2 separate regions of the Homo sapiens genome follow, and region 1 is linked to region 2. The links come from fine-mapping of genetic effects on gene expression. Tissue or cell type: whole blood. Region 2 holds a variant in brackets; the other region holds the start of a gene. All regions are shown on one strand. Distances are from middle to middle.

Region 1 (2,689 bases), 140 kb after region 2:
TTACAGCTATCAAATTTTCACACATATCTGACAGATTGGATTTGAACCCCCTAACAACCCTGCAATGAGACAGGCAGAGTTTTCATTCCTGCAATGAGACAGGCAGAGTTTTCATTCCTGTTTAACAGGTGAGCAACTTCTAAATATTGCAAACGTTTGTTTTCTGTTTTAAAATATAAAAACACTATATTTGATGTAAACAAAAATGCAAGTGCCTAAAAAGGCAACCACATGTTTGACATTCACAAGATCATGAACCCTCCAATCCCACCTCTGCTATTCACTTATCTGGGCCATTTCAGGAGTGACTTCACCCTTGAGGCCTGTTGCTTTCACCTATGAAACCTGGGGTTTAACCAGGTGAGCATGAGGTATCCTCCTAACTCTAACACTATAATATCCTGGTCCTGTATTAGGAAACTTCAGTTTCACCCACATTACCTGCAGGCGACTTTTAACCTACTTGCCATGCTGCGACTATTACACAAAGCAACTGATGACAAGCCTTGGATGACAGGCCTCAGGGGCAATGCCTTCCACCTGGATGGCTACCTGATTCCAAAGACTTCAACAACCAATCCCATTCCTCCTACATCTTTACTCCTGCCTGAAGATTCGGACTCAACTTATTAAGAGCAACTTGGAAGGAAGGGGCAACAACCAAAAGAAACGAGTCACTAAAACAGTAGGGCCCTTCTCGGCAACCCCTGACACCACCCTGCACATCCAGTCCTTGAAAAGTTCTGTTTCTTTTCCTCCTATATCCAAGCCCTAAGATACCGCCCCTCCCCCACCCCAGCCCCCATATGCCACTGACACGCATTGGAGAGTGAGGATCAACGTCCCTTGCAGACGTGTGCACGGGCCTAGGAACCAGCTGACCCACGTTTCAACTGTCATTAACTTCTAACTACATGCCCCGTCGGGCCTGACCTGAGGCTGAACTCCTGTGACCTTCCAACTCCCCTGGATCTGCACGGCAGTCACTTGGAGGCACCGCCCCTGCGCTAGCTCCAGAGCTTGAGACAGGGTCCGGGCGGAGCTCCTTCCTGAGCCGGAGAAGACGCGCCCCTGTCCCTTCCGCGACTGCCGCCCCGCACTCCCTGCGGGGAGGTCGACCCCGGCGCATTCTAGGCCCCGCGGTCCTCCAGCGGGTTGGCCGCTACCTTGTCCAGCAGCCGGTAGATGCTGATGCCCGAGGTCTCCACTAGGAGCTGCCAGTCGGCCCCGGCCAGAGCGGGCTGCTGGAGCTCGGCGCAGGCCTCCCAGAACTGCTCCTCCGAGAAGCTTCCGGCGGCCAGCTCCATCCTTCCGCAGTCCGGGCTCCTCCGCCTGGAGGGCAGGCCGCGGACACCCTTAGTGTGGGCCTGGGGGCGGGGTGACCGGGCTGCCCCGGCTGCCCCGGCTGCCCCAGCGTCATTGGCAGGAAACTGAGGAGAAGGCGGGGCCTAGACTGGAGGAGCGGCCTGAGGGTGGGGCCCTGGAGGGGCGGGCCTAGAAAAGCGGGCGGGGCTGAGCAAGGAGTGAGGAGGATAGACAAGAAGTAAAAGGAGAAAAATTGGACTTGATGTGGGGAAGGAAGGAAGAGCTGGAGAAGTAAGGAGGCTTCCAGAGGGAAGGGAAAAAGGAAGGGAGACAGTGATGTCACCTCAAAAACAGCTCCTCAGTAGCCTATCCCATACTCCCTGCTACTCCCATAACCTACAGACCTGTTTGAGTGTCTCTCATTTACCTTTCTGAATAAAGTAGAGAAAGTCTCTTTGGTAGACATGAGAGGAGAGGTGGGCAGAGTAGAAATGCTGGAAAAATCCTAAGGGGTCAAATGCCAGAAGTGTATTTCAATATAATTTCTCTTCTTTCTGCTATACATTGTAAAACATTATTCTGAGACGAGGTCCATTGGATTCCCCAGAAGACTCTAGGGGTTCATAACACCAAAACAGTTTAGAAACCTAATCCATAATGGATCTACAAGGTTGTTGCCACCCTTGAGGGTAGAAACTGATCTGAAAGGTGTCGTACTATCCACCTAGGATTTCTGCAACTTGCATAATTTAGCTCACTGTGCAACTCAAACATCTTCTTGTTCCTTTGAAGTCCCTTGAGTAATACTGTATTTCCCACCAGCAGACTGTACTACCTGACTTTGAATAAAGTAGGTCGTTTGAACATCAAAACGATGTAACAGCCACGTGAGTGCCAATAAACTCTGGAAACTCATGTTTCCTAATCTGTAAAATGGGTCAAGAATTGTGCTACCAGTTACAGCTGAGGAGGTGGTTGGACAAGGAATAATTTTCCACAGTGCCCGTCCAAGTAAATGTTCAATAACAATTTCCACTTGTTTTGCATTACTATATTGAAATGCTTTTCTTTCCTTACTTGAAAGAAAGTTGATGGCAAAGTCTTAATTTATGTGATTTTCCAATCAGGCAAATGATCACATTTGGCAGCTTGCTTAGTTAGACACAGCAGAGATAAATAATTGCTTTCCTCAAGTCAGTCCTGGTTCTGTTTGGCTTTATAGGTGTGGAAAGAGGGATGTGAAATTTTCCTAGACTAAATGCACAAAAGTTTAGGCTAGACATACTTTCCCACTGTTTTATAACTCCTTGTAAATTTTCTATGTATTGTAAATCCATATTTTATTTAAATGGAAATTCATTGCTTGAAAAACCAATTGTGTAAA
Region 2 (2,689 bases):
TGGTAAGAGCCAGGCAGGGGAAGGGGAGATCAGTGGCCAAGACCACTCCCCGAGCCATTCATTCTCCACACCATTACTCTTTCCAAGGCAAAGAGAGGACTGTGCATTCTGTTCTGTAATCTCCCACTTGGGGAAGCTATTGTCTCATATTCTGTAAGTTCACACACAGGGCATCTTGTTTTTTGTTTTTTGGGTTTTTTTTTAACTTTTATTTCAAGTTCAGGGGTACATGTGCAGGATGTGTATTTGTTACATAGGTAAACATGTGTCACGGGGGTTTGTTGTACACATTGTTTCATCACTCAGGTGTTAAGCCTAGTACGCATTAGTTATTTTTCCTGATCTTCTACCTCGTCCCACCCTTCACACTCTGATAGGCCCCAGTATGTGTTGTTCCCCTCTATGATGTTCTCATCCTTTAGCTCCCACTTTAAGTGACAGAAGTAGTTTAAAGCCTCTTGAGTAATCTATGCTAGAGAAAGACATGAAAGAAAACCTTTGTCAATGTAAAGGGCACTGATTTTGTTATCAGAGAGACCCGAGTTCAAATCCCATCTATTTCTCCTCCTGATATTGTGTGCACGTGTAACTTTAGGCAAACAAATTTGCCTTACCTAGTTACAGTTACTTTTCTAGAAAATTGAGATACTATTTCAGAATGTATAGGGTATTATAAATAATTTTTTGGAATAATACTTAAAGGACCAGGCAAATAGGGGCTTAGCACATTCTACTTTCCAATTCATTTACGACAACTTTGTAAAACAAATATTACTATCCCCATTTTTTTTCAGATGAGGACATTGAGCTCAGACGTTGTCACCACATATACAAATAACTAAAAAGTGACATCCCTAGGAAGTTCTTGAGCCAGAATTTAAATCAGTTTGGGAGGCTGAGGTGGGAGGATCAGCTGACGTCAGGTGTTCAAGACCAGCCTGGCCAACATAGTGAAACCCTGTCTCTACTAAAAATACAAAAATTAGCCAGGCGTGGTGGTGTGTACCTGTAGTCCCAGCTACTTGGGAGGCTGAGGCAGAAGAATCGCTTGAACCCAGGAGGTGGAGGTTGCAGTGAGCCAAGATCGCACCACTGCACTATGTCCTGGGTGATAGAGGGAGACTCCATCTAAAAAAAAAAGTCATCACTAGCAAGATGTCATTCACTTCAGAGTAAGACCTCCAGGATCATCGCATAGGGGTCCCTGTGCATGTGTGCTCATGGGAGATGGTGTTGGTGGCAAGGCTACTGAGGACAAAAGAAAAAGAGAACAAAATCCTGAAAGAGAAACATATATTGGG[A/T]GTAGTCTATATATTGGGAGTAGTTCCAACATTGGCCCAGACACAGGGTTGTAGAGAATCATTTTTATTAATATTTATGTATCAGAATGACTTAAGACTAAATCTCAGTGTGAAAGACATAGGCCCAAGTGCTTGGGAATGGAGAAGCAGGAGAGAGATAAGGGTAATATTTACTAAGCATTTACAATATAACTATGCTAGGTACTGTAGGTACATTATTATATTTAATTGTATAACAATTCTGTAAAGGTAATGAGGCTTCTAAATGCCTCCTCCCATTATTCATATTTCCCTAAACCTTTTAGAAATAGAGGCTCCCTGATTTTTAGCAGACCAACAATTTATTTGGACCTCCCTTGTGGCTTACTGTTGCCAAATGACCAAGTTTTAGCACAAAGACTATGAACATAACTGATATGTGTAACCTTTACATAACTCTCCTAAAAGCAAATTGTTTGCCTTCCACTTTTTCTCCCTCCTCTAGCCTATGAACTAGAGCTTGTCTTGGTGAACCAGCTTTAGATCACGTGACCAAAGACCACATCCTTAGGCAGTGGATCTCAACCAGGGAGTGGTTTTGTTGCTCCAGGAGACACTGAAAGTGTTCAGAGACATTTTTTTTCATTGTCACAACCAGGGAGAGAGTGCTAGTGGCATCTAGTTAGTAGGGACCGGGGATGCTGCTAAACATCCTACAATACACAAGGCAACATCCGTTCCTGCCCCCACTGCCCAGCGAAGAATTATCCGGCCCCAAATGTGAATAATGCTGAAGTTGAGAAACCTTGTCTAAAGGACAGTTGAGCAATAAGATGGAAGGAACAGAGCCTCTTGCACTCCCAGGACTGTTAGAAGAGAGCAAAACAAATATCCATCTTGTTTGACTCACTGTTGTTTTGGTCTCTGCCATGGCAGTTTAGCTAGCTAATGCAGGGCAATATTATCATTATTCTTCCAGCCTCAGAAAAATTAATTTTTCAAGGTCTCAATGTTAATAAATGGCAAAATAAGGATTAACACTCATGTCCGTTTGAATCCAACTCATCTTCTTATATTCTGTAATAACTCTCCCCCTTGATTGCCATGGGAGAAGAAGAGATGACAAGAAGAAAAAAAGAAGGAAAAACTGAGAATACCTTGGGGACCCACTGGAAAAATACTGGTCCAAGGGAGGGAGCTTCCTAGCTTGATTTTAGCACAATTACTAAAAGTATCGTACTGGCATAAAAACAGGCACATCAGCTAACAGATTAGACTAGAAAACCCCGAAATAGACCCATGCAATATGGTCAAGAAGGGCACCAAGAATACACAATAGAAATGAATAGTCTCTTAAATAAATGATTCTGGGGAAACTGTATGTCTATATGCAAAATAATGAAATTGGA

The links. PIP is the estimated chance that this variant, and not a neighbour inherited with it, causes the effect.
Region 1: PCTP starts here. The variant in region 2 is fine-mapped to the expression of PCTP in whole blood (TOPMed, PIP above 0.99).

What each region holds. Positions count from the first base shown.
Region 1 is chr17:55,749,722-55,752,410 of GRCh38, reverse strand. PCTP (phosphatidylcholine transfer protein) reads right to left here and starts at 1,360. Exons shown (of 6, transcript NM_021213.4): 1 at 1,167-1,360. The coding sequence starts at 1,307. RefSeq lists a silencer at 1,223-1,562.
Region 2 is chr17:55,894,695-55,897,383 of GRCh38, reverse strand. No RefSeq gene overlaps it. Among named protein-coding and RNA genes, the nearest start is that of PCTP, 140 kb to the right of the region's middle. The variant A/T (reference allele first, on the strand shown) is at 1,302.